4 linked regions of the Homo sapiens genome follow. The protein of the gene in region 4 purifies or fractionates together with the protein of the main gene of each other region. This does not show direct contact. Each region holds a gene or a part of one and is shown on either strand. Other genes may lie near its edges. The genes, in order: MACROH2A1, CTSF, TOP2B and HSD3B2.

Region 1 (8,517 bases), on a different chromosome or scaffold from region 4:
TCTTCTCAGCCCTCTCCTTGAGTGGGACTTCACTAAGCACCCCTGCTCTCAGTGAGCTCACCTTCCAGGGCTGGGGCCAGGCAGGTATGCAGCAAATCCAGGCTAGGAGCTCATTAGGGACCTCAGAGAGTCACAGCAGGAGAGGCTGTATCCTGGGAGTCCAGGGAGATTTTTCTGGAGCAGACAGATTGCGAGCTTGCAATTGACGGCTGGGGAGGAGTAGAGGTGGATTCTGGTATTCTTTGTCTGTCACTTAGGGTATAGACATTCTTCTGCTAAGATTAGGTCCCCCTCGCACTGTGCTGTGGGCTGCTCTTAGGCCTTTACCATTTTTTAGTAATTGCCAGGTTGAAGTTGCCCCAGCCACAGGCCACTTTGATCCAAGTCATCAGGATCCTGAGCCGAGAGCAATGGTATACAGGAGGGAGAACATTCAGAAGCGATGGTGATGGGGCCACCACTCCCCTGAGCTGTGCCCCCTGCAGCTAGAGAGGGGATGGGGCAGCCCCAAAGTGGCCTCCCACTCCAGGCCCCCGGGCTTTGGGTAAATGAAAAATTCTCCCCCATTCAAAGGTCTCTTGAGTTTCTGTCCTTTTATCTCACCTCTGAGGCCAATGCTTAGGAGGGGAAAGAGGCTGATGGCTATACTTGGGCAGGTCAGGGAGTTCCCAGGTAGTGTTTTATGCACAGAGAGTACGCAGGCAGGGGGCAGTCCTATGGTGGGATGAGGTGGTGGGACCTGGGGTCTGGCTGACCAATGGAGATGGGAGGCAGGGGTTCCATGAGCCTAACAGCTCTGAAGCGAAGGGCTTCTGATCAAATTCTCACTCTACCAAGTACAAGTTGAGTGACCTCAGATGATTTACTTAACCCCTCTATGCTTCAGTTTCTTTGCCCTTGAAAGGAATAATGCTGTTCACCTTGTAGGGTTGCTGTGAGATAATGCAGATAAAGGGTTTAGCACCGCGCCTGGGGCTCAACACATACCCATAAATAGTAGCTTGAAAAAAATAAACCAGCTTTTCCTTTTAAGCTTATAAATCTAAGGAAAGTTTAATCAAAGCCCCAAACTAGTATTCCCTATGTACTACCCCTCTGGAGAGGGGTCACCCCTAATGTGAAACAGAGCTGAGGGAGTGGGGGTATCCATAAATATCGTGACCAGAATGGCTGAGGACAGGATGTCCAGATGCCAGGGCCTCACAGGCTGGAGGGAGCCATCACACAGGTGTGGTTATGGTCATCTTCCATCCATGTAGGCTGTGCCACTGGGCCTCAGCTAAGAGAGTGATCCTTTACCAATGGCTCTTTCCCAACATGCTTACCTTTATACTGTTTTAATTCCAACATTACTTCCGTGCCAGAGACACTGGATGCAACAAACAAGCTGTTTTATTTCCCCTCCTAAAACCCACTGTGATTTACTGGCCGGCTCTGGTGTAATCCCATTTTTTTTTACTCATGAAAGAGAGGGCAGCTGTTTACACAGCTCTATGGGGTGAGGTCTGCCTGGCAGATGTGGCCTGGGTAGCTGTACACATGTGCTGCCTTAGGCATTTCCCCCTCTTCAAGCTTTCAATTGATTATTTTTATTCCTACTTTTTACTCCATGAAAAATGTAAATAAGTTTGTAATAACAGATGCTCTTTTATGAGAATTACTTTTATGCTTCAATTAAAAATTTCCCAATACCCATATGAAAGGTTGTGAAATTATTACCTCCAATAAAGTTTCCTATTGCCTCCCTCTGCGGAAGCACCTTTCATCAGAGCAGATCAAAGTGCATTGAAAGCACTAATTAACTGAGCCTCAGAACCATTTGTGAGGATGGGCAGTCCCTATAGCCTCACTTGCTGATAAGGCAGACCAGGGCAGAGAGGCTGATTCATTTAACCAAAGGTCACACAGGATAGGAGAGCTGAGGGGCCTCACTCACAGAACCCCAGGACCAGACAGCCCAGAGATGTGAGGCCAGGGAAGGGGGAGGCAAGCCTGCCCATAGCTCAACAACTGGTGAGGGGTTGCTGGGGAAATGCTCATTCTGCTGTTTTGCCCTTGACTGGGAGAAGTGGGGGTGGCGGCGGGTGGCGGGCAGTGATACAGGCTCCAGAGAAGGTTCAGGTGCAACCAGAGATCTTTCCCCAGAGCCTGGTACTGGTGGGTCCTGCCAGTCACACATGGCCTTGGCCATAGAAAGCCCTGGGGAACGGTGGCAGTGCCCATCTGCCTGTGGACAAGGCCTTTTACTAGGCAGAATGTCAAGTGACAGGAAGCCCACTCTGTACTAGTTCTGCCACCAGTACTTGAGGTGTGGGACCTCAGTGATGGCAGCATGCAGGAGGCAAAATCACGAGGCCTGCCTAAGCGGAAAATGGCAAAATCTACTCTCTATCCTCTAGAAAGTTTGGAAGGAAAGTGCTTTGCAGAGAGCAGCTGTCAGTTCAGGACATGGTTCTGAGGACTGTTGCTCAGGCTCGCCCAGAAGGGACAGCCTGCAGTGTCATAGGCAGTTGATGCTGCACAGCCCTGCCTTCCTTGGGTGCTGGGAGGGGCTGATGGGCAGAGACCCCAGAAGGCTCACAAGCTGGGATGGGAAGCCCCAGGAGCAGTGGCAGGTACTCTGTCCAAAGCAAGCCACCTGCCAATACAGAACCCCAGGTTATGGCTCCTCTTGGGCGCAAGTTGTTAACAGCTACAGCCTCTAAAGGCCAGTTTCTCTTTGCTTCAGTGCCCAATGCAGACCTCGAGCCTTCCAGAGGCCTTGGACTCTTGGACTTAGACCCTTGGTAGGGAGGACCCTAGCAATGGGCAGTGGGACACAATCTCAGAGGTGGCTCTGCCCTGACAGGTCCTCATGTCTGCATCATGGGACACACTTCTGAAAGCACTCTGCCTTCTAAGAGCTCCTTTAATTTCTAGAGCAACCCTGAGATACTGCATGGGGGGATTATTATGCCAACTTCTCAGAATGGGGGTTAATTTACATGTCATCACTCACCGGGTTAGTGGCCAAGCCAGGATGCAACTCCAGGCCTGACCCCTAAGCCAGAGTGCAGTGCTGCTCCAACAGGCAGGAACCTGATAGGTTATTTGCTGACATGTGTGGGGTGTACAACCAGGTAGGTATTGTGGGGGTTGCCCTGAGCCCTACCTGCATCATCAGCTGTCGAAAAACTAGACTTCTCCTGTGGTGGTCCTCCGGGTATGTGTATGTCTTAGGGGCAACTGTGTTGGTCGTGAAGACCTTGGTGAGTCTACCTGGGGATTTTCTGGGACAGGAAGTGGAGTAGGGCCCAGCCCTGTTTCAATCTCACGTAATTCCCCATTCCGTTCCACCAGGTCCCATTACCTCATTAGCAGGCCAGCAGGGTTACCCTAGGGCAGTAAGACAGGGAGTCAGGTAGAGATGCAGGTTCTCAGGAGGTGAAATATACTTGTGAGTAGAAAGGAAAGGGGCAGAGGGCTTTATCCAAAGAATACTGTGGTTTGGGGGACAGACCATAACACAGCTATAGCCTTATTCTGAGACAGCCAAGCTGTTCGTTTGTATCCCTGTATTCACGCCTCCAGATCTTCTCCACCCAAGTCACTGTGCCCCTCAAAACTTACTCTCTGAGGTACCATTTCTGTGGTCCCAGTACACACTGGGTTCCCCTTCTGTGATGACATTTGCTATCAAAACTTAAGTTTTATATCATCCTTGGGATTTGGGTCTCTCTAATTGTCCCTCACCATCATTTAATGTCTGCATTCTTCCCTGTGTTGTGCTTCTGGTCTCCTTGGTTAAGGCAGCCTCCGTGGGCCTTGCACAGAGTGAGAGCACCACAATTATGGGCCATGTGTGCGCAGAGAGACACACCCATGACCGATACGTAACAAGCATGTGCCCCTACCTGCCGCTGCCGATGGATGGAAATGCAATGGATTTCAGCTTCTTATCATCAGCCAGGGCCAAGCAGTTTTTCACTGTCTTTTCCAGAAGTTCTTCACACTTGTCTGCACCCCAAACTGGACTATTACAGTGGATCACAAACTTGGCAGGCAGGCCATGGCCTGCGCTGACAGCAGCTAGTGGTGCGGGGATGAAACAGAAACAGTGAGCTCTGGTTCACTGCAAAGCACAAGATGCCAAACACAGACCCACTCCCCTGCCACGGTATATCTTCCTGGGCCCTCCAATGCCCTGTGTCCGAGGAGTTCCACAGCTGTCTGCTGCGTTGTGATTCCAACGTGAGCTGGAGCCAAGCCACACCCTTGGAAAGTTGGCATTATGATGTGTCACCACCAGGAATTTTGACCAAGTTCGTAGTAAGCCTCTCTCCACTCTCAGAAAGCATACACGGTTCTCCCAGAGGCAGAGCCTTATCCATCAAAACTCAACTGAACGCAAACTCAACGTGTCAGAACATTTGCAGCCTCAAAATAATTGTTTTGGGTTTCCAACCCTTCTTCTTCAAGTCGACTGGTGTGCTAATTATCGACTTGCACACCAATATGATGTATTTGTCTCTACTATGATGTATTCTCTAAATCTCCCAAACCCAATTCAGGACAAAGCTACTAGGAAAGCAACTGCTTTAAATGATCTGCTAAGCAACCTGACCAGCATCTCCACTCTGCCATTGTCTTCTCCCTGCTGAGGATGGCCTCACTGTGTGAATAACGGATCCTGTTTATTTGTGGCAGAATTAGATTAGTTTTTAAGGAACTGTGTTTTTCTTTTCCTAGAAGAGGGGCCCCTTTCTAGCTATACATCTCCACCAAAGACTTGCCTTTCCCTTGCCAGATCTAAGGACACAGGCCTGGGGTCTGCCACAAACTGCAAAGTACCATGTCTCCCAGAGCATGTTCCAGAACCCCTGTCCACAGATGCTCTGCAAAGAAGGTTTCCAGGGCACTGGGTTTAGCTGCATGCTACGCTTCTATACAAGAGCACACCAGAGTCTCCACACCACTGCTAAAGTAAAACATCCAAACTTTTTGTATTTGGTTGGCTATTTCTGAAACTTTTTTTTTTTTTAAGGAATATCTGTCCAAGGGGTATGGTTTGTTATGGTCGTGTCATAGATACTGGAGAAGGAGCGATTTGTGGGTAGTGTCTCATGGTACAGTGGAAACAGCTCAGTCACAGGGTGTGAATTTGAGTCCTGGCTCTGCTTTGTGACTGGGCTTGAGAACTCTGGGCTGACCTATAAAAACCTGACATTGGGGGTTGAATTAAACCAGTGGGTTTGTCCCCATGAGAAGTCATGGCTAAACTATGCATAGAAAACGACTGGAAAGAAACATTAACAGTGACTATCTTTGCACAGTGGAACAGGAGTATGTTTTATTCACCTCTTTATACTTTCAAAAATATTTTAAAGCAGTTTCTAAAATAGCCCTTAAAATCAAGAACAAAAGTGTTATTGAAACAAGCAAAAATATCTTGAACCATGCTATACCTAATGGGTTTGCATCTGCTGTGGCTGAGGTTTCCCCAGCAGAGTTTGGTACATGGCAGCACCAGGCTGCCTACCAGGCCTTGTGCCAAGGGCTACCAGCAGGACTCAAGCTGGAACCCCGATGGGAAAGGACCCACAGGCTGGTCAAACAGGTGTTTTAAAGGGCCTGGGGAAAGGCCAGCTGCCCCTGGCTAGGTAGTTAAAACTGTGTATGCCTTCCCTTGTACAATGTGGGACTTTGGTGGAACTGCCTGGGAGAACTTCATAATTACTACCCTGTATGTCATGCCCCTTGCAGGTAAAACAGAAGTGGCAGAGCAGAGGTCAAAGGCACAGATCAGCAAAGGGAATCCTACTGGATCCTGAGACTAGCCTGGAAGGGGTGTCATTTGTCACTGGGAATAGAGGTGCACGGCCTGGTGGACCCTCCGAGAGAGCTTAAGATTCATTTTTAAAACAGAGGATTTAAAAGACACAATAGGCATTGGAATCGGGTAGTAAGAAGAGAAAACCAGAGCCCCAAGTGAGGAAGTGGGTGATCTGTCCTCACACAGTTGGTGGGGGAGCTGGGCCTCCCCACTGACTGGACTCTCAGGTCCTTAGGAGGTGCTCTGTCCTGCACACCCCAAATGACCACCTAAATTCAGGCCTGAAGCAGTAAGAAGTACCCTGCCTCCAGGTCTTAGCAATAATTCTCCCCACATCAGATGCCAAGTCGTTTTCTTCCCCTTATACCAGGGAAGGTGTAATTGGCAAATGAGAAATGTGTATTTATATGTTTCCTCTTACACACACAGATGGCTGAAGATTTTTAATTTGTATCTCTCACCAGCAGTTTTGCAGATGGCTCAGTATCACTCACTCTCAGCTCTTAGATGTACCAAACTCAGCTCCTATAATTTCTTAAAATTTGTGATCTAGACATCAAACATATAGGAGCTATTTTAAGTAATAAAAAAAAATGCAAAGGTGATTTTCCCAGACAACCTGCATGTGGTGAAACTCTAAGATGTAAAGCTACAGGCTGTCCTTGGCCTCCATCTTGAAGATGCGGCTGTGCTGCCACACACCTCTGAATTCTAAGCCCTCTCACAAAATGGCTTTCCTAATACTGCATGTGTCACAACCAGATAAGCACGGTGGCTTTCCCACCTCACCTCCAGCTACTTCCAAGGGCCCGTTCTTTTTCCGGAGTTCCAGGACAGCTTCCACAAACTCCTTGCCACCTTTCTTCTCCAGCGTGTTTCCTAGACAAGGACAGGGTGGGGTCAGGTTGCCATTCTGTGTCTCCGGCACACACAGACACTTAGCATGTCAGGTGATTACATACTTCAAATGATCTATTAAATTTCCATCAGGCTGCAAAACAGGAACTAAGCCTTGGCTAAGTTAATAAAGTAAAATTGAGAAGGGCTTTGTCATCACCAGTTACTACCCTCAAATTGCTGCTTCATCTGGCTGTCTCTGCTGCCCCTTATTTGGGTCTGACTCAGGGTGATCATGGATGTGCCAGAGATGTGAAAGAGACAGGACATGCTTGTTTTTTGCAAACATGCTTGTCCTGGATGCTTTTCATTGGCATGAGATACTAGCTGGTACTGGTTTCCAAGACTAATGCCTGCCTTAGGTTTTCTTCTCTGTCTCTGGGGAGAACCCCCAAGTAAGGAGGTTTCAGCAGCATACAATGCTCCCATCAATAAGCCAGCTCTCCTCCTGGCAGCAGGCCTAGAAGGAAGTGTTCATACCTGGCCACCTTTGGACCAGCATTATTACCATGCTTAGTTCCTGTTTTGCAGCTTTGGTGTCATATGCAAATACAAAATAAAAATGGCCTCAGACGGTATTTTCTTAATTACACTAATGATTCAGAATTGTTTTCAGTAAAGAAGGGCAACATCAGAAGCAGAGCTTAAAGATTAATCTGTGTTCTATAAAAAGCTTGGAAAGGAGGATGTCTAACTGCTCAGGACCAGATTTTTCACAAAAGCCAATGGAGATTGGGAGCAATGTGTTTTCTTCAATTAGGGCACTTGCTAAGTAATCAGTTCCTGCTGTGAAAACCAAGTTCCCAAACAAGATCACCAACACCTATGAGAACTCTGGGTTGATGCTCATGTGGGATAGCAAGTGGCAATCAAAGTTAGCAACAAGATCAGCCTTTCAAGTTTGGCCAGAATGGGGTCTGAGTCTTCCTTAAGCTCTGATTCCTCAGTTTTGCACATTTTAAAGTACTTTTCCTCACAAGAGGACAAAATACTCCCCTTAAGATTCACATCTGTCTTGGAAAATTCCAGGTGCACCTGGCACAATTCTGGTATGGGACGGTCAAGGTGCATCGGAATGCACCAGCCCAAATTCTCTTTGGAGTCACCCTGCGATGACCAGGGTTAATTATCTTAGTGAAACTTGCCTCCTTTGAATGTTTGTTCTGCAGGGGTGAACTAACCCCGGGAGGTGTCTGGGAAGAAGAGTAAATAGCTTGGGCTTTGTCCCAAATAAGAACCAGGGCTAATGGCTAGGACTGGGCCTGTACCCACCCGCTGTAGGAAACCTGGGGTGTGCAGATGAACATGACCAGCAGCCATAGCCCAGGGGAGCTCTCAGCTGTGTCCGAGAGAGGGTGGCACAAACTTAGCATCCTTGAGGTGGGATTTTGTGTTACCCTTCATGATCTCAGACTGCCCTCCTGCCTCTACCTGTCCTGGAAAGCAGCACAGGCTTTAAATGGCAGAGTGAGAATGTCACACCTGTTGCTGCTGCATGTTTCTAGTAAAGTCAGCATCAGAGGTGGCAGCTGAATGGGGCATGCACTGGAGGAAGCAGGCCGGGGGCTTAGAGCCCAACTCCACCACTACAAAGTGGATGCAACCCAGGCGAGTGAGACCCCAATACAGGTTCACCTAAACTATCCCTGCAGCTGAGAAAAAGGAATCTGGAGCCGGAACCAGCTGGATTCCACACACTGCTGCCCCTGGGGCCCAGTCTAGCCTTCTGTCTTAAACCCATTCTCCAGCTTGAGGCAGGGCAACAAAAATGCTGGAGGCTGGACTAGTTAGCATTCTCAGTCTTTATC
Region 2 (3,663 bases), on a different chromosome or scaffold from region 4:
AGGCGGTGGAGGGGCTGGTGGGCTAGGGCAGGGCACGGGACCTGTGGGTCCTCAACGCCTCTTCTCCCCAGAACTACATCACCCCCGAGGAGCTGCGGCGCGAGCTCCCTGCCAAGCAGGCCGAGTACTGCATCCGCCGTATGGTGCCCTACAAGGGATCCGGGGCCCCGGCTGGAGCCCTGGACTACGTGGCCTTCTCCAGTGCCCTCTATGGGGAGAGCGACCTTTGACCCCAACCACTGAGGTTCTCTATGCAAGATGGAGAGAGGATGCACCCTGTGGCTGATCCCATCCGTCCCTCGGAGCAAGGGCCTAAGAGAAAAGCCAGCCAAGTGCTTCTGAATAAAGATCCCTCTCTGGGTCTCTCCCCATCTCCTTTTAGTTCCTGAAGCAGAAGCTGGCCCCTCAGGCTCCTGGGCAGGACCAGCTATCCCACCTTGACCCGCCAGGAGTCCCTGCCATCTCTCCTCACCCCCGGGGACTGAGCATTTATACCACACTCGGGACAAGGACACCTCTTTATTGCTGTTAGAAAAGGGTGGTTACAAGTTTCCTGGACATGGAGAGGGACACTATCCCTAAATCCAAGGGAACCAGAAAATTTATAGTATCAAACAGAGGAAAGCGGGGGCAGAACAGAGCTGGGCTTAAGATCAGAAAATTTTCTTCCTGCTCATTACCCAAGCCCAGAGTTCTTGCCCCAGCTTCAACTGCCAAGATACCACCCTTCACCCCGACATCCTCCTAAGCTACCACAATTCAACAAAGGTGCAGGTGCAGAACTTCAGGGTGGGAATGGGGTGCAGGGAAGCAGGGGCTGTGCCCCAGCCCAGTGCCCTCTGCTCACCCTGAGGTACCCAGTGCCTTTCCCTCTGCCAGCTGTACCTCCCGGGGAGGGGCCTGGACACATGTCAGGCTGGGGCAGCAGCCACTCTGATCAGCACCAGGTCCCGAGCTGGGGGCCCCTCTTCAGTCCACCACCGCCGAGCTGGCCATGGTGTTCACGCCACAGGCCCCGGACCCACGATGCAAGTAGTAGTAACCCTGGGGGAGAGGGGGAGCTGGTGAGGGCACCAGGGTAGGATGGCGGCTGGAGGGCCAGGGGCCAAGCCAGCAAGACTCACCTTCTCACCCCAGTCAGTGCCCCAGCTGTTCTTGATGGCCCAAAAGGGAACGTCAGAGCCTGGGGTGCAGTGCAGAGCGCAAGGATCAGGGTCCTTAATTCTCCAGGCAGAGCCTTAATCACTTTGCACCCTTCAAATACTTGCACTGGGCCTACTGTGTGACAGGGACTAGGAAAAGAGCAGAAAGCGAGGGGCCCACCTACCAGCCTCAGGGAGAAGCCCTGGGGCAGGGAGGAAGCACGCACCCACCCGCCTATTGCAGGTTATTAGGCCATCAATATTTACCCTCCCACAGCTCAGCTTCCCTGCCATAGAGAGGACAGATGATGCCCAGCTGGTCATGGCCCAGGCAGTGGGTAAGGACAGGGTTCCTAGGCATTCCCCCTATTTCCCCTCTAGAGGACCTGAGATGCTGTGATCCCACCCCTGCCTGTGGCCTGGCTGGATGCAGGACAGGCAGCGGAACTCACGGTTGCCGTAGCCCACAAGCAACACCGCATGGTCAATGAGCCAAGGGCTGCAGAGGGGCCGGAGAGGGCGGGAGATCCCGTGGCGGTAAAACTGGAGGTGGAGAAGGAGTAGGGGATCGACTCCAAGAAGAGGTCGGGGAGGTCAACAAGAGATGGGGCAGGGGCAGTGGGGCTAGGGCCTCACCTGCATGCCAAAGGCATTGATGGCCACGGAGATTGGGCCTCTCTTGGCCAGCCAGGCTGCCAGCTCTGAGATGGGAAGGGGTGGCATCAGTAGGCACCCAGGCCCCGGCCCCACCTGACCTCACCTCACCCTGCCCCTCACTCACTCTGCTCGTTCTGGCTCAGCTCCACGGAGTCATTGATGTAGACCTTGGCCTTCTCTGCTGAGAAGTTGCAGGACTGCATGTGACCCTGGTAGCTGTAGTCATCCTCTGTCTCCAGCCCTCCTGGGGAACGGTGGGGGTGAGTAGAGAAGGGCAGGCTCCCATTTGCCATTCACAGCCAGAAATGAACTAAGCCCTCTACGCGAGGTTTCACATTCCTCGTCCACCCCAGGCCACAGGCCATCCCCTCTGAAGAATGTCTTCATTCTAGAAATGACACATCTGAGGCTGGGAGAGATGGGGAGGAGGGACCAGTAGCCAGCAAGAAAAGTGGCAGAGACAGAACTCAACTCCAACTTCTGACTCCTCACCAAGAGCTCATCCCAGCAGTCTTTCACCCAGGCTGGAGTACAGTGGCACAAACATGCCTCACTACAGCCTCAACCTCCTGGGCTCAAGCGATCCTCCTGCCTCAGCCCCCCAAGTAGCTGAGACTACAGATGCAAGCCACCATGCCTGGCTAATGTCTTTAATTTTTTGTAGAGATGGGGTCTTGCTATGTTGCCCAACCTGGTCCTGAACTTCTGGCCTTAAGTGATCTTCCCAAGTTGGCCTCCCAAAGTGTTGGAATTACAGGCATGAGCCACCACGCCTGGCTGGGTCAGCATTAAGACCTGGACCCAGTTCTGTGTAACTCTCATGCTCATGTCTCCCCCCCATTATGAAGTAACTTCTTGTACAGGGAGAAGTGGCTCCGGTTGCCCCTCCTGACCCCATTAATGCATACCCAAATTCTTTATGGCCGAGTAGGCATTGGAGGGCAAGCCGCCCATGCAGGCCTTGTCCATCTTGTCACAGTCCAAGAGCTCTAGGAGACAGAAGGCTGGTCCCAAGAAGCCCTCCTGAGGGGCTAGGCTGGGGACAGAGGAGTAGAGCGAGATGCTCACCCTGTTCAGAGAGGGAGAGCAGGGTCCCCTGGTTGAGAAACCACTGGCCCTCCACATTGCCTGTGACTGAGAAGGCCCAGCAGGAGCCACACATGCCCTACAAGAGATGGGTGGAGTTGGAGTCAGAGCCGGGCCCCTTCGTCAGCCCCAGTGCAGTGCCCATGTCCCACCCTCACTTCCAGGGGTCCAACCTGGTCTTTGACTTTTGTGACAGCCCCCTTACTCCTCCAGTCCCATTCAGGTGGGGCGAGGTCACCCACAGACTTGGCTTGCTTCATCTTGTTGCCAGGCTCTTTCCTCAGGAGAGTATTCAGGTAGATAGTGCGGAACTCCTCCTCTGCGGGCAAAGGTGGGCAGGGCATGGGGAGGAAGAGTGTTCTAAGCCAGACCTGACCAGAGGCCTTGCGAGCAAGGTCCTGTCTCTTCCTGGATCCATGAGGACTGTGGCCACTATCCCTACCTGTGAGATCACTGAACTTGGTGACTCCATACTGAGCTGTGCCACGGTCCAGGGCCTGGATCTTCTGTGCTCGCACCATGTTATTGACAAAGACGGACAGGCGCCACCGGGCTTCTGAGGACCAAGGAGCAGAAGAGGAGGGGTTCGACCCCAGGCAGATAAAAGGAAGGGCAATTGGGGCTAGCAGGCAGGGGTTTCCCCGGGGAGCAGGTAGGGGTGGGGGCCAGACATGCAAGTGATGGAGTGGGAGGTCTGATCAACTTTTAGGGCCAAACTGAAGTGATGACTTCCCAGGTGCAAAAGCAGTAAATGGGGTCTAAAGGACACCACCCACAA
Region 3 (8,517 bases), on a different chromosome or scaffold from region 4:
CAATTTAGAGTAGAATTGCTAGGAAGGCTTCATAGAAGAAAGGCGATTTGTGGCTAGAACTTGAGGGATAGGTAGAAACATCTGCTATTACCAGAAAAGCCAAGCAATACAAAGATCAACAAACTTCATAAAGGTTATGAGAAAAAAAAAAGTTCTAGATAGAAGATCAAAATCTGCTTCAACTAACGAGAAATAGTTTCTAAATTTTTTTCAAATTAGAAATAGTTCCTAAATTTTTTTCAAGTTAAGTTAAAGCATTAGGCTTTGGGTAATACAGAATAAAAGCTTTTTAAAATTTAATCTCTGATAAATATTTTAGAAATTATCAAAGTTCCATTTTACTTTTTTAGAAAATCTGCAGACAACTTGGGCAAAAGCTTTAAGACTTTTAAAGTTAATTTTCCTGAAAAACTCGGAAAAGGTTTAAAAGTTTCAAATTAAGGAATATTAAAGATTTCAGCACTATGAAAACATAAAACAAAAGCAAAATCAAAAAGGCCTTAAATTCCTCTGAATAAGCTCTTCATATACAAGATTTAAAGTAAGAATTTTAATATGTATCATAAGGATGGCTTAAAGTACATGAAATTAAACTATAGTAAATAACATTAAAAAATGAGGTTTTTAAATATTACTCACCATCAACAAGAGATGGTATAGATCTTTCATTGTCTGAGTTTGAGAAGAGAATCAATTCCTTGTTGATGAAATCATTATAAGTCAAATGCTTTGTTGCAGTACCATATAAAAATTGCTAAGAGAAAAGTTATATAGCAATATTATCATTATTACTGCATGAATTCTAGTCTCTCTCTCCTTCTTTCCCCAGGTCACCACTCTTTAAGACTAACCTCTGGTAAGCCATGTAGCCTACGCTGTCTCCGGTCTTCCATAAAATTTGTTAACCATTCTTTTCTGTCATCAATCTTCTTCTTACTAAATGCCTGAAAGATTCCAGGTAACGATTTTGCACATTAAAAATAAAATAAATTTTATTACAAAATTAAAATGTATAAGTGGCCAATAACTAATTCTTAATTTCTGGAAAATTAGGTTATTTTACAATATTTTAATCAAAAACACATTTAAACTAAGGTCTTTCAATTAAAGAAGTTTATACAAGCACAGCATCATCTGGGGGAAAAATTAAAATTAACTAGCTTGAGCATTCAAAAGAGACTTATCATAGGGAACCAGGACTGGGAGGAAAGGAATAGAAGGTAGGGGGATGGCTAACAAAAGCTTTTAAAAAATTAACTTAATTACCAAGGTAATGGCAGCATCATCTTCAGGACCAGCATATCTAAACAAGATGCGATGCCTTTCCATATCAGCAAAATATTCCTTTGCTTCTTTAGCTGTACTAGTACCCAATCCTGCACAATTTTAAAAATAAAAGTGAGTCATGAATATCAATGTCTGTTTAAAACCATCAAGTAAAAAGCTGGTGGAAAAGTTGTAATAGATGGATCAAGCTGGCAACACCTATACTAAGTGATCAATCTTAATAAGCAACTAAAGACAAAGTAGACATTAGATGCTTCCTGATGAAAGCACACAACGCTACCTATGAAATGTTTTTGCCAAACAAATGTAACCCAAATCTGATCACGCCTCTGATTTAACCATCAGTTAACAGAAAATAAGGGCAAAGGAAAATACTATATATTAAATGTAACTAGAGGAATATAATTAACAAAATCCAGAATGTGGAATATTACACAGAACAAACAACCCAACTTCTTTAACAAATAAATTACAAGGAAAAAATATAAAAAGAGAAATGCTATATTAATAAACTTATCAACCAAATGCAATGTGTGGACCTTACTTGGATCCTGACTTTGGAAAAAAACAAACAAACTCAGGCCAAGCATGGTGGCTCATGCCTGTAATCCCAGCACTTTGGGAGGCTGAGGTGGGCGGATCACTTAAGGCCGGGACTTCTAGACCACCCTGGCCAACACAGCAAAACCCCACCCATACTACAAATAGCCAGGCATAGTGGCACATGCCTGTAATCTCAGCTACTTGGGTGGCTGAAGCATGAGAATCACTTGAACACATGAGGAAGAGAGCCGAGATCCCACCACTGCACTCCAGCCTGGGCAACAGAGCAAGACTCTATCTCAAAAAAATAAAAACAATTAAAAAAAAACGAAATAAAAATAAAAATAAAAAACTCTAAAAATAAACAATTTTAATACAGTCCAGGGGAATTTTAACACTGGCTGGGTATTTAACATTATTTAAAAAAAAAAAAAAAAAAAGGGAGCCAGGCATGGTGGCTCACACCTGTAATCCCAATACTTTGGGAGGCCAAGGTGGGTGGATGGCTTGAACTCAGGAGTCCAAGACCAGCCTGGGCAACAAACCAAAACCCCATCTCTACAAAAATACAAAAATTAGCTGGGTGTGGTGGCACACACCTGTAGTCCCAGCTACTTGCGGGGGCTGAGGCAAGAGGATCATTTGAGCCCGGAAAGTCAAGGCGGCAGTGAGCTGTGTTCATGCTACTGCACTCCAGCCTGGGTGACAAAGCAAGACCCTGTCTCAACAATAGGATATTAAAGAAGGTTATGATAATGGTATTATGGGTTACTTAAAAAAATTCTTTCAGAAATACATACTGAAGTAGTTATAGGTGAAATACTAGACTATAATGTCTGGAAGTTTTTTCAAACTAATGGAGTGGCAATAAAGGAGGTTTACAGGAAACAAGACTAGCCATTGAAATGGTGATCCCATTCAATGAAATCTATTACACTATTCTACTTGCATACATTTTTCTATAACAATACTTTAAAATCAGTGATAGCTATTTTCGAAGTCTAAAATAGTCAAACTTTCAAGTCATCTTTTAGATTGCTTTCATAAGAATACATTTATATCAGTATTTAAAATCTAAGTATTTTAAAATACAAACCTTTATAGTACTTTATTTTCCAGGCTTTCTGGTTTTCTATATGTTTTTTCCATTCGTCAAATTCAGGAATACTGTAGAAGGAAAGTTCCTGCTTATTTTTGCTTGCCTTAAATTAATTAAAAAACAAAATTAGTTTTTCTGCTACCCTTTAAGACAACAATATAAAAATATATTAATGCAAAGAGTACCTTTACAATAGGAGTAATGAACTCTTCAAGAAAACCATGCTTCAAAAGTGATGGCCAATTGTGATGGATGAAATTAATAAGCAGGCCTTTTATGTGAGAACCATCTTGATCCTAAATAAATGTTAGTAAAGTAAAAAATGTTGTAATACTTTTATAAAATGATTACTTATATAAACAAATTTTAAAACGTGAATGCAAAAAACCAAAATTCTGAATTTTAGAAATGCATTTTACAAAAGCTATTAAGATGATCATACTAAATTTTTTAATACACAAATAAAGAATATAGTAGTAATAGACTGAATCTGTCATTATAAAAATATATTATCATTTTATCTGTTTTATAGTTTCCCCAGATTTCACTAAAAGAATGATTTAAGGATAGAAAATACATAAAATAAAACATGGTTATAATGCCACCTTAATGGGCAATGGTAGGGAAACCCAGGTAATACAGATATTCACAAGTCTTCCCTAGATAAAAAATTGGAAAATTTCTGCTTAAAACTATATATTAATAGCAGTTTTTTCAGTTGCAGATTTTCTCTACAAATACTTTAGAGTGCATAAGAGAAAACAGTTGAATGCATCTGAAATTCTTCCTTTTCAATTTTCTAGTTCTTTCTCGATTACCATCATTTTACTATTTAAGTCCTGGTATTTGTGCATTCCAAATCATGCCATCATGTATAAATATTAACCCTTATCATTAATCTTTCTTACTTGTTAATTCCATAATTTTGTTCCTACTTGTAGGTAGGCTGCTATAGTACCACACTGTATTATATTCTCCTTAGTTACCCCAAAAATCAGACAATGTAAAATGTGCTTCATAAAAATGTTTCCACTAAATGACGTGGTTTTTTCATTTTTTCCTCCTGATGTATAATCACTTTCAGTTATACCATCTTCGGGCAAGTCTCATAAAACAAATATTAAAGGGAGAATCTGAAGAAGACATGAATTTGAAATATGTGGTAACTTTAAAACCAACCTGATCGGTCATAATCATAATCTTTCCATAGCGTAAGGTTTTCAGAGATTCTGCATCATCGTAACTTTTCTTATATTGTAGACCAACTATTTTAATAATATTATTTATTTCAGCATTTTCCATGATCTGTTCAAAAAGGAAAAGCACTGAGAGTAGTTTGAAGTGTTGAAATATACGAGTCAGAAATTACATTTAAAAATTCGAGAAGTTTAGTAAAGTATTAGAAATGTCATATGTATGTGTGCATGTGTGTATACACATATATATACACACACATACATACCTGTTTATGAGAAGCTTCCCGTACATTAAGAATTTTGCCCCTGAGTGGAAAAACTCCGTATCTGTCTCGTCCAATCACACCTAATCCAGACACAGCCAGTGATTTGGCAGAGTCTCCCTCTGTTAATATCAGTGTACACTCCAGGGAATGTTTACCACCTGAGAGAAATTTAAAATTATACATAGTAAAAATTTCTCATACTTTCACTGATGAGAAAAATGAAGTCAGAAAATTAACATTAGAATGCTGACAGTGAAAGACTATAAAAGTTATTTTACATTATTGCTCAGTATAAATATTAAGTATATTTTATTAAATTCCTATCCCCTGAAAATTAGTAATATGTTGTGTATGTGATAATTTCAATGAAGTAAAATCATACTCTGAATGGAAAATCATAGTCTAACTATATGTAGAAAATAAAAAAATTCTGTAACTAAATAAAAGTGAAACTTAAATCAAAATCTTATTTAAAAATATCAATCTTACCAGCATCATTAGCATCATCCAGTTTGGGAATACCTTTGATTTTACTGTATTTTACTGATGAACACTTCTTATTCAGCTGAGTCTGAGCCTTAAATTTCACCCAGTTCAGGATACTTTCTACAATGCCACAATTAGAGGCCTAAAAATAAAAGAATAATGGTATACAAACAAGCTGAAAATTCATACATTTAGCTAAAATGTATAGGGCCTAATGCAAGACCTGGAATCTGTGCAATTTTAAGGTATTTTAGGGCAAAACAATAATGGTGATAAGCATCATGATACATGCTAATCAGCTTTTACTCAACTACTGTAAAATTAAAGCTAAAATATAAATACATGAAAAAGGATAACTTTTACATATGAGAAACATTCTATTATAATAAACTCCATGAGGAATATGCATTGCTCTTGTTACAAATTAATTTTATTAAAATTAACACAGTGAAAACAGATCCACACATGAACCTACTAGCCGGCAAATTCCAGACGTTGACATTTCTGATATCCTTCAATACAAAACGTGAGTCTTTAATTCACTATGACAAAAAGTATTAACCTAAAAGGAACATTAGGATAACCTTGGTAACTTATGAATAGACTTTTATTCTTTAAATAGCTTGGTAATAAAGATTTCAACATTACATATTGTTTGTACTCTGCAGTGAATCAATCTGTGGCAAGATGTTAACCCAGACAGAAAAAGGAAAAGAAAGTTAAGCATCTCCAACTCTAAGTCCTAAAAGTTTTTTTATCATCCTCGGTGATTTGATGTTAGGTGTATAAAACAGTTTTCTGGAATGTTTAAGACATAAACAAAAGAGGTGAACTGTGTTGTCAAATTTAAACTTAGTGCACCTAAAATGAAAAAGTATAAAATTTAAAATCAAATCACTTCATCAAGGAAACAATTGTTATGAGGACAGAAATTTGGGAAAGCATTAATATAGCATAATTTGTACTCAGAATTCATTAAGATTAGATCCAAAAGTACTATTTCTACAGGCCTTAAGTTAGAACCTAAAAAACAACTTTTGTTTTTGTTTCTGATAATCTACTTTTTGGAATTTGAGAAATACATTAGTTCTAGGGCAGTTATAGAGCATTTCCCCACCAAAATTCCAAAGAGGAGAGGCTGTGATTGATTCATCTCCATTATTTATTTGTGCTCTCACCTTATTTTAGAGAAGTTAAGGTAGCCTAAAAAAATTATGTGCAAAGCAAAGCAATTTAAGAACATGTAGAAAATAGTACATTTTGTTATACATGTTACCACAATTTTTAAACATGTATAAAGATAAGAATCAGTAGATCAAGTTGAAATGAGAGTAGAAAAGATGAAAGAGTTGCATAAGGATCTGGACATCTGTTAGGGGAAATCTGACCTTTACAATGGTCAATACAAAGCTAAAAATGCAATTAGTTACATAATTCCCTACTTTAGTTCTTGGCAAAACAATTGTTTTAGGAAACATTAAAGTCTACCCTTTAAAGTTATCAAATTAAGCATATTAGTTTGTAGTGCAAGCATGCTTATACCCACAGTTAATACGATGAAAGAAACTAATCACAAATAAAGTAAATCAAGAAAACTACCTAATCAACTCTTAATAACAACAATAAAAAAAATACAAGTTTTACTCACTGCTTTAAAAAATTTTTCTGACAGCTGGCATTTAGACCCAAAACTTTTGGGCTGCAGAGTCATGTTTTCCTTAGTCTGAGAATCAAAAGTTGGATTTTCAATAAGGCAATTAATAAAAACCCATATATGGTTTTTTACCTGTTGAAAACATACCCAAAAAAGTCAATATCAGAGCTGATATTTAGTAATTCAGTATATATATAATGCATATGTATGCATCATGTACAATATATAACACATCCCTTACTTGAAATGGTTTCACTGATACACCAGCTTTGTTCTTTTTCTTAACTACTTCAATCAGTTTACCAACAACTTGATCTACCACATAATCCACGTGCCGTCCACCCTAAAGAAAAAAAAATATATGAAATCTGAAATCCTGTATTGTTAAAGTAGCAAAATACTTTATCTGTATTATAAACCCTATTTTCTAAAAGAGTAATAGAGTCTCAGAACGAGAGTTGAGATTTTAAAAAAATAAGACATTTTGGCTACAGAGCCAATAAACCAACCGCTGTGTTTTTTTTGTTTGTTTGTTTGTTTGCTTTCCTCACTTCAATTCTAACACCAATTCTCAGGTGCTTTCAACACCAGCAACCAATTCTCTGATTCTCCAGACACCAAATGGATGTTCAACAATGTAATTCAATTTTGATACTAACTACCTGGAGTTAGCACAAGTATTTAGGGTTGGTTAAGGGCTCAATCCCACAGGACTCCCCACACTTCAGATGCCAGTTACAAGTCCTAGGCCTCCTGTACTTCTAACGAACCTATGACCCACTCCTCAGGAATGATAATTTGCTGGAACAGGTCACAGAACTCAAGAACACACTTTACTTCATTTACAAGTTTTTTATATAGGATCCAGCAATAATAGCCAAATGGAAGAGATGCATAGGGCATAGTACAGGGGAAAGGGTACACAAAGCTCCATGCCTTACCCAGACATGCCACCCTCTTGGCACCTCAAATGTATTCACCAACCTAGGAGTTCTGTGAACTCCATTGTTCAGGAGTTTTTACAGAGCTTTATCACATAGCCATAATTGATTTTTAACTCAGTCACCAGCCCCCTCTCCTCTCCCCAGAGGTTGGGGAAGGTGGGGCTAAAAGTTACAGAAAAAGGAATTTGTTATTCTAAATTTCATAAAATATAAATATGTTCAACTACAAACACTAGTCATATAAATTTATTTCTCAATAATTGTTTAAATAAATTTTAATACAGCAATTTCATAGAAAATAGGTTTTTGTTTTCATAAGTCAATTCTTATTTAACAAAAACAGATTTGGGTTTTTTGGGGGTTGTGGATATTGTTATTTGTTTTGTAGTTTTTATTGAAGTACTGTTCTACCACTGACTTGGAAACAAATAATTTGCTTACTTACTTTTGTAGTTGCAATACTATTTACAAAGCTGATTTGCTGGAATCCTTTTTCACTCAATGTGAGACAAACATCCCATCTTTCATTTGCAAGCTCATGAATAACTTTCAGGGCCACCCCAGTTTCATCCAATTTGTCTTTCACATAAAGATCTACATAACTGCGAAATCCATTTACCTATTAATTTAAAAAACAAAAACAATTAAAAATCTTACACTGGCAGCTCAAATAGGTGAATCACCTTCAGTACGTATACTTTCATTTCCTCTCACTTACAACAGTTCTAAGTGCACCGATCCAAACCTTAGTGGCATTTCCCAGATCTATTCCTTAACCCTTGACCTTTAAAAAAGAAATTCATTTCTATGTGTACTTGACAAAAAGAGGATGTGAAGGGACAGGTAAATTGTTATAAAATATTTCAGAAATTTCTATTTTTAAAATGATAAGGTAGACTTCCAGTTTCAGTTCAGACAGATAATGAACTAGCAGGAAAAAAAGCTTCCATCCTTGTAAGAAAACGGGTGATCAGACAACAAATTAATGGGTTTTTCATGAACCCACTGAAGAACTGAGATCACAGGAGAGCTGGCCATCCTG
Region 4 (8,352 bases):
GATGAGGAATCATGTATAGAATTATGATTTTGGGTCTCCAGCACCATGTCAAAGAAAAACCCTTATTTATGTTGGAATAAGTAGAGAAACAGGCCGGGTGCAGTGGCTCATTCCTGTAATTCCAGCTCTTTGGGACTCTGAGGTGGTGAATCACTTGATTTCTGGAGGTGGAGGTCTGGCTGGAAAACATGGCAAAACCCTGTCTTTACTAAAATTACAAAAATTAGCTGGGCGTGATGGTATGTGCCTATAGTCCCAGCTAATCACAAACCTGAAGCAGGAGGAAGGATGGAGTCTGGGAGGTGGAGGTTGCAGTGAATTGAGATCATGCCACTGCATGCTAGCCTCAGTGGCAGAGAAAGACCCTGTCTCAAAATAATAATAATAATAATAATAATAATAATAATAATAGTAATAATAATAAAAGATAAACAGACGCAGAGTTGTGGCGTAGGAAGTTTACCTTGGCTTGAGGATATAAAACAGACTGGTATAGGGGAAATGAGAAAGCCAGGTGATCAAGAGATTAATCAGAATGTCTGTGCCAAAGTTTAGATGAGGACTGGAACCAGGGTCCAGCAGTGGAAGCAGAGGAGGGGAGAGATGCACTCCAGGTTTGAATTTCAGACCTCACCTTGAAGGTCCTGGTACCTACTGGAGCTGGGATGAGAGGAAAAGGAGACAAAATCACCCTTACAGTTTCCTGCTTGGGCAACTGGGAGGAGAGTGGAGCCATTACTCAGGAATTGCAGATGGGCTTAAATGATTAATTTCATTGAGAAACTTTTATCAGATATCATAAAAAGCAGATAGCAATGCTGAAAATGAGTTAGCCACCAATGAACTAACATCTCAGCTGTCTAATGTCTAGCCAAGGGCAGCGGATGTAACATCCATATCTTCAGGCTCCTCTGAAATCCACAGGTAGTGACGCTGCCGGTAAAGTTGTCACCTGGAATTAGCCCACAAAATGAACACCATGCTACATGGAGCTCAGATAAATACTCTACACTCATTTGTGCTTTATAATCTGCATACGGCTCACAGCTTGCTTATTTCCTTTTACAGCTATCTCGTGAGGTAGGTATTCTGAGTCCCACTTTATTGGTGAGGAAACTGAGGCTCAGAGAGGTTAAGGGACAGATCTAAAGTCAATTTTCTAGTGAAGGCTCAAACCTGCCCATTCCACCTGCCATTTTTGTACCCTGTACCCCAGGTGCAGGAATAGCTGTTTAGAATCAACTTTTCTGAGAAAGAGTAAGAATAAGCCAGTTTAACTGAAAATGCCCACAAAGGCCAAAGAACAGTGAGAGCGAAATTCAGAATGAAAAATTCAAGGCTGGAGAAATTCCTTCCTGGGATACAGGTGGGACCATTTGCTCTTCTGATGCCTCTGCCTTGTTTTGTCTACTCCCAGCCCCTTCCCACTGTCAGGCAACTCCAAGAAGGCCCTGGAATGGTGGAGGCAGGGAAGAGGCTGCTGGGGAGGAGGTGGGTGTCAGCCCGAGAGTGGAATTTTCTCTGGTTGTATTTCCACCTCTACCTTTTCTACTCCCTTCATCTGCTTCTCCTTTGCTGCCGACTTTAGACAGACTGGCTCAAAGGAATTGCCATTTCATAGCAGAAGTCCAAAGCCGATAGAAAATGACTCTTCCCCGGTGAGTTTCCATGGATCTAGAGAGACCAGAAAAGCGCAATTTTTGATGGAGTCTTAGCTCCCTCCTTCTCCAAGGCACTGTGGACTTGGCAAGTGTTTCATGTAGACTAAATTCAGTTGCTTTTGTGTTGTGTGTTGGGCTGGAGGGAGGCTCAGAGAAGCTGCTAGACAAACTACTACTTAAGAGCACAGAAGCTGCACTAGACTGCCTGGATTCAAATCCAGCTTTGCCGTAATCTAACTTGGGACCTTCGACAAGTTGATTAACCTCTCTGTGTCTGTCTCCTCATCTATAAAAAAGGAGGATAATAGTATTACCCATCTCATAGGGTTGTTATGGGAAGTAAATGAGTCAGCACATGCAAAACCTTTAGCACAGTGCCTGGCACAGAAAGAACACTGAAAGGATTCTCTGTTTTTATCTTCATACAGGCCCTGCCCATCCATTATGCTCCCTGCATTTTCACCATAGCAGAACTCTTCCTCTAGACTGAGCATTGCTTTTTCCTGGTATCAGATGTTAGATTGTAAATATTGCTGAGACATAAGGATTACAAACATTTAATATCAGTCATGTGTTAATATCTGTTCACTATTAGAACAGAGAGTGGAGGAAATTGGACATTTAAAGAGGTCAGAGAAGAGTGAAAGAAGAGGAGAGTGTCAAGGGGAGCTTCTGTGTGAACAGGGCAGGACCTTCTAGGCAGCCAGAACCTGCATGAAGAAGATACATAGTTCCCCCAGTCCCCTGGGTTGGGAGGAAAACATGGAATTGGTTTGGGGCACACAGAGAGGCAAAGGGAGAGACTGAAGACCCACCAAGGATTAGCCCGGGGGTCAAGTGATGAAGCTTCTGGAATGAAGCTCTGGTCTGAGCTCTGCTACACATTAATCAGCTGTTCTTGGCAAGTAACTTTATGTTTCTGGAACTTGATGGGTTCATTGTCCAGTTGGAGGTGACCCCTTTTCTACCTTCCTCACAGGGTTATTTGCACAAAGAGTTACTACAGCAAATTCTGCAGTCAATTTATTTGGAGTATTGAACAACAGATACAAATGGTTTTTTTTTAAAAAGGCTATATATGAGAAATATAAATGAGGCATGTTGGCCTCATACTGCCTTTTACTCTGTCTCTGCTCTGTGCCGTGCACTTGTGCATGCTCTCTTTCTCTCTTTCTCTCTCTCTCACTGATGATCTCTCTCACTTTCACTCTCTCTCTCTTGCTGATGCTCTCCCTCACACTATCTTTCTCATTCATTCTCTGTCTTTCTCATTCTCTGTCTCTGACCTTCTTTCCCCCTCATTTTCTTTCTCTGTCTGACACACACACACAATTACACACACATCCGTACCTTCACTTCCTTTTATTTTGCCCTCACTAAAGATACTAAGGAAGCTATAAAATGAAATGAAGCCTGGGGCAGTCTAGACAGGCAGGACCCACTGGTGAGGTCTCCAGGTAAATGATGTCCTTTGTGAATGTCGCACAGCAATCGCCAAGACAAAAAGCTTCAGAACATAAGAGTTGTAGACAAGAAGGAGAACTCATGTGTGACTCTCTAGAAGAGAAGAAAAGGGGCCTTGAGGCTGACATGGCTGCCTCTCAAGTTCTGCGTCAGGGCCAGAATCCAGTCTCTGGACACCCCATCCAGTATCTTTCACACTATACCATTTTATTCTATTTCCTTTCTGATGACTTTAGATGTGTGACTGGCTTTCATTTGGCTACAACTTTCCTTAACTTGCTAGACAAGGTCAACCTCCCCACACCCATGCAGAGTTTAAGATGGAGCCACAGACCCATGACTCAAGTTTACTTACTAGAAAATTCCTCTCTCAATTCTGGTCTGAAGGCCTTGTCCAAGGCCCTGATCTCCTTCAGTTCCTTCTCTTCCACCAACAGGCGGACGATCCTCTGACCCAGAAGCCCTCCTGCTCCTGTCACAAGGCAGCTCCAGCCCATCGTGGCCAATCCAAAGTAGCAGGAAACACTTGCCAGGAAACAGAAGATGCTGGAGAGCAGATCTGATTCTAGCGTGACCCAGAAGAGGGCTAAAAACAAGAGGTAAAATGGTTATACACTCAGCAGATGCCTTATTTTCCTCCACCCCATTTTTTACAAAAATTCCATGACCCCACAACTGCCAGGAGTAGTTGAAAGAAAAGGAGAAAGCTCTAACCGTAACTTAGATTGTTAAAAGCTGGACAGAGGAGTCCAAGTCCTTACTGCCTCATCCCTGGAGGAAGGACTGGAGCTTTATGCTCTGTGGCTTGTGTCTCAGCCCTTATTACCTTGAACTCCTGCCACATACTCATTGCTCCCTCCTCCTCCAGAATCCCTTTTCTCAGAATAATAGTGACCTTTAGGTTATATCTCTAATTCTTCCCAGGAACAGGAAGAGAAATCCAATCTTAAGGCCACAGTGTGATAAAGAGTCTTGGCTTTAGCCTTAACAGAACACTGGTCAGTTGATACCAGCTGTCTGGGATCTGCAATCTGTGAACTTAAACCAAACTGGGAGAAGTCTCCAAGTGCAATGTAAATGTTGTCCTTGTACAGTAAATCCACCTGGAGGGAGATCTATTTTAGCCCATTATCAACTCTCTGAGAGTGTCATTTGAAACGTCACTGCTGTCTTGCAAAGTTTAGAAATTTTCAATGGTGACAGCTCCAATCACTAAGTTTTATGTGAGGTGACTTTCTTTTCCACCCAATATATCCAAAACCTCAATTGCAATTTTTCCCTGGAGAGCTCTGGGTTCCTAATGGAAGAACCTCATTGAAGGAAAGGTATCTAGTGATAACGAATTAATCATATGGCCTGTAATACAAGTGTGGGGATTTGTAGTTGTATGCCCAATGACTCTAATCATAGATATTTGCACTCATCTTACATTTTTGGCTGCAAAACCATTCTTAGCAAATTGTTGAACTGAAGATGCTATGAATGCTTCTGAAACCTATGCCCCAGTCTGCCCAAACATCACTGCCATAAACTCCCCAAGACACTTTTCTCTACTTAAAAAAATAGAGATGTAGTTTTTTTAAGTAGATGTAATCTGGGCATTACAAGGCCCAGATCTTAAGCGTTCAGTGTACACTTAAGTGTTCATTGTCAATGAACCTTGACAGTTATATATGTCCATGTAAGTACCAACGAAAAGAAGACCACCATTTCCTTCACTCCAGAAAGTTTTATCTGCCTGTTCTTAGTCAATTGCCTGCCCTCCCCCGAGTTTACCTGGTAGGCAATTACTTTCTGATTTTTATTCCCACAGAGTTCCCACTTTATTCCTATATTTTCCTAATTTTTTCTTCTAAGATCTTTGTGATTCTGGATATATATTTAAATATAAAATCATTCTGAACTGAAGTTTTGTTCATGGAGTACAGAAAAATTGACCACTGATTGTCTCTATTGTTTGTTCATTTTTCTATTTCATGATTTTCATTATTTTTATTATTGGCTTAAATGTTTATTAACTTTGGGTTTATTTTACTCTTCTTTTTCAGGGTTCTTATGATAAAAGCATAGATAATTGACTTTACTTCTTTGCTCATTTCCACCATAGGCATTTAAAGTTGTAAATTTCTCTCTAAACACTATGTTAGCTGTATCCAACATTTTGATGCATTGGGTTATCATTATTCAGTTACTGACGTTTTGAATTTTTTCTTGTGATGTCTTCTTTGACCCAAGTGTTATTGAGAAGCATGTTGCATGTTTTCTAAAACTGGGGATTTTCTTATTGTTATGTATTTCTAATTAAATATTATTGTGGCCAGAGCATATACTCTGTATGATTTTGATTCTTTGATATATATTGAGATTTGTTTTATGGTCCAGCCTATGGTCTATGTTGGTGGAAATGCCATAAGCACTTCAAAAGAATGCTTTCTGAAGTTGTTGGAAGTCATACTCTACAAATGATTTAGCTTGACTCCCCATTCTGGGTCTTGCCTTTCTCCTGTGTGTAGACATTCACCTTCTACTTGGAACCTGGCTGCCAATGCTTCAAACCCACTTGCCTAGGAAAGGTTGGTCCTGTGATGCAAGGTGTAGCAGCTTGTCTTCTGAAGCTCTCAGAACTAGACACGGGCCCTGGGACTTGTGGAGCACTATCTGAAACCACCCAGGTGCATCACACACCTTTGCCTGCCATATCAGATGCTGGAGTGCACCTTACAGACCCCCATGACCTTCAGGGTGGGACCAAATGTTCCTTCAGCTGTTGAGAGTTCTGGAGGCTCTTAGAGTTCAGGCAGTGTCTCTTGGAGTCTGAGTGGAAGCAATAACTGTAAGCTTTCTTTAAACCAATAAATATTTTGCTTTCTTTAGGAAAGTGAGCAGTAGGACAAAGAGCAAGGCTGCTGGGGGCCACACTACCAACTTTCTGTTTTTAAACAGCTTTACTGAAGTATAATTGACATATTATAACATTCCCATTTTAAGTGTACAGTTCAATTATTTTTAGTAAAATTTTAGACTTGTGTAACCATCATCACAATCCTGTTTTGGAACATTTCTATCTTTCCTAAGAAATCCCTCATGCTTATCATTTGCCACCTCTTATTCCCAGCCCCCAGCTCTAGGCAGCCCTCATGACTTCCTGACTCCACAGATTTGATTTTCTGGACACCATATAACTAGAATCATGTAATATGTGGTCTTTTGCATCTGCCTTCTTTCACATAGCTTAATATACTTATGTGTTTCATCTATGTTGTAGCATGTATCAATATTTCATTCCTTTTAGGTGGCAAATTCTATTAAATTGTATGGATGGCTGCCATTAGTTTATTCATTTATCAGTTGATAGATATTTATGTGTTTCCCCCCCTTTTTTTTTTTTTTTTTTGAGATGGAGTGTCACTCTGTCACCAGGCTGGAGTGCAGTAGCATAATCCCGGCTCACTGCAACCTCCGCCTCCTGGGTTCAAGCGATTCTCCTGCCTCAGCCTCCCGAGTAGCTGGGACTACAGGTGCACGCCACCATGCCCAGCTAATTTTTGTATTTTTAGGAGAGACAAGGTCTCACCATGTTGGCCAGGATGGTCTCGATCTCTTGACCTCATGATCTGCCCACCTTGGCCTCCCAAAGTGCATTATGGATAAAGCTGCTATGAATATTCACATTCATGTATTGTGTAGACATACATTTTTATTTCTTTAGGGTTGACAGGAGTAAAACTGCTAGGTCATATGGTAAGTGCATCTTTAATGTTTTAAGGAACAGCCAAAATGTTTTTGAACATGGCTGCCTGTCCCATCAACAATGCATGAGTATTTCAATTTTCCCACATCATTGTGCTTTCACTTCCTCCAATTGTTATTGTTTTATTTTTAGTATAGCATTCTAGTGGGTAAGAAGTGGTGTCACATTGTAGTTTTGATTTGTATTTCCCTGCTGACTGATGATGCTCACCATCTTTTCTGTACTTTATTGGCCATTCCTACACCTTTTTGGTGAAATGATTATTCAAATATCTTGCTCATTTTAAAATTGGGTTATTTTTCTTTTTGTTGTTTAGTTGTGAGTGCATTTTACATTCTGGATATGAGTCCTTTATCAAATATATGATTTAAATTTTTTTCCTCCAGTCTGTGGCTTATCTTTTCATTTTCTTATTGATGTCTTTTAACATGTAAACATTTTTAGTTTTGATCATGTCTCATTTTTCGACTTTTTTCCTTCTACCAGGAAAATTTGGGCTTTTGCCTAATCCAGTGTCATGTATGTATTAATCTCTGATTTCTTCAAGAAGTGTATAGTTTAGCCCTTACATTTAGGCCTATAATCCATGTTGAGAGAATTTTTGCTTATGTGTGAGTTAATGGCCTAAATTCGTACGACCAATTGATTTTGACAAAAGCAAATTCAATGGAAAAAATGATAGTCTTTCATACATGCAATCCTGAGACAATGAAATTGTCCTCCACATGCTCAGAGAAGGTCAGCATGCTGTGTAAAGTGATACTCATCTGAGTTACCACCTATTGGCATCAGAGTTTGTAAAGAATTTCTCAATATGATGATCACGGGTTAAATAATATGCTGTATTAGGAAAACTCACAAAGATTACTGATCAGCAAAAGAATAGGCAGCATGATTTCCCCATCCTCCTATCTTATGCTGATGCATAAATTGTTAGGAAATTGCTGGGCTAACAATGTGAGTATTCATTCCAGTGTAGGAACACTAATCTCCCTTATTATAACTTTTTATGATGTAAGCACAAGGACACAGGCTTACATCCCTTATTATAACTTTTTATGATGTAAGCACAAGGACACAGGATCCTCAAGGGAGGAATACAGGCTGTTGGCGTGAAACAGTCTGGATTTAGGTGCCAGCTATTCACAAGATTGTCTGCGAAAATCAACTACCCAGCACCTAGAGTCCTTGGGACTCATGCAAAGAGTTTCCCTTTTCTTAGGGGAGAAGACACCCATTCTACAGGGAGCTATATTAGGCACAGTCCCTCATGCTGGAAAAAGGAAAATCCCTCTTCTTGGCCAGCTTATTAAAATTCTGGGTTACTTTAGGATAATTACACCCCCTGTGCTAGTCCTAGAGAGGTCAATTTGTATGTGAGAAGCATATAATAATTTTTAAAGGCACAGGACTAGATGAAATAAGCTAGGGTAATAATATTCATGGATAAAAGGAAAAGTTTCCAGACTGAATCCT

The links.
Region 1: the proteins of HSD3B2 (region 4) and MACROH2A1 purify together in Homo sapiens (affinity purification with mass spectrometry; 2 studies listed by BioGRID and IntAct, with this or other methods). This does not show direct contact.
Region 2: the proteins of HSD3B2 (region 4) and CTSF purify together in Homo sapiens (affinity purification with mass spectrometry; 2 studies listed by BioGRID and IntAct, with this or other methods). This does not show direct contact.
Region 3: the proteins of HSD3B2 (region 4) and TOP2B purify together in Homo sapiens (affinity purification with mass spectrometry; 2 studies listed by BioGRID and IntAct, with this or other methods). This does not show direct contact.

Annotation. Positions count from the first base shown.
Region 1 is NC_000005.10:135,339,367-135,347,883, forward strand, and holds part of MACROH2A1 (core histone macro-H2A.1), read right to left. Parts: intron 6,692-8,517; coding exon 6,602-6,691; intron 5,315-6,601; exon of another isoform or gene 4,069-5,314; coding exon 3,894-4,068; exon of another isoform or gene 3,789-3,893; intron 210-3,788; exon of another isoform or gene 62-209; intron 1-61. UniProt on the Homo sapiens protein: Variant histone H2A which replaces conventional H2A in a subset of nucleosomes where it represses transcription. Nucleosomes wrap and compact DNA into chromatin, limiting DNA accessibility to the cellular machineries which require DNA as a template.
Region 2 is NC_000011.10:66,562,964-66,566,626, forward strand, and holds the end of CTSF (cathepsin F precursor), read right to left. Parts: intron 3,442-3,663; coding exon 3,328-3,441; intron 3,205-3,327; coding exon 3,059-3,204; intron 2,965-3,058; coding exon 2,868-2,964; intron 2,789-2,867; coding exon 2,708-2,788; intron 2,044-2,707; coding exon 1,924-2,043; intron 1,844-1,923; coding exon 1,779-1,843; intron 1,686-1,778; coding exon 1,595-1,685; intron 1,184-1,594; coding exon 1,125-1,183; intron 1,045-1,124; coding exon 970-1,044; 3' UTR 501-969; downstream 1-500. Other genes in the region: ACTN3 (alpha-actinin-3), read left to right, coding at 72-230. UniProt on the Homo sapiens protein: Thiol protease which is believed to participate in intracellular degradation and turnover of proteins. Has also been implicated in tumor invasion and metastasis.
Region 3 is NC_000003.12:25,625,921-25,634,437, forward strand, and holds part of TOP2B (DNA topoisomerase 2-beta), read right to left. Parts: intron 8,095-8,517; coding exon 7,921-8,094; intron 6,875-7,920; coding exon 6,773-6,874; intron 6,664-6,772; coding exon 6,526-6,663; intron 5,020-6,525; coding exon 4,881-5,019; intron 4,550-4,880; coding exon 4,392-4,549; intron 4,235-4,391; coding exon 4,109-4,234; intron 3,226-4,108; coding exon 3,115-3,225; intron 3,033-3,114; coding exon 2,927-3,032; intron 1,377-2,926; coding exon 1,267-1,376; intron 945-1,266; coding exon 852-944; intron 755-851; coding exon 640-754; intron 1-639. UniProt on the Homo sapiens protein: Key decatenating enzyme that alters DNA topology by binding to two double-stranded DNA molecules, generating a double-stranded break in one of the strands, passing the intact strand through the broken strand, and religating the broken strand.
Region 4 is NC_000001.11:119,410,690-119,419,041, reverse strand, and holds the start of HSD3B2 (3 beta-hydroxysteroid dehydrogenase/Delta 5-->4-isomerase type 2), read right to left. Parts: upstream 3,893-8,352; 5' UTR 3,840-3,892; intron 3,712-3,839; 5' UTR 3,623-3,711; coding exon 3,481-3,622; intron 1-3,480. UniProt on the Homo sapiens protein: 3-beta-HSD is a bifunctional enzyme, that catalyzes the oxidative conversion of Delta(5)-ene-3-beta-hydroxy steroid, and the oxidative conversion of ketosteroids.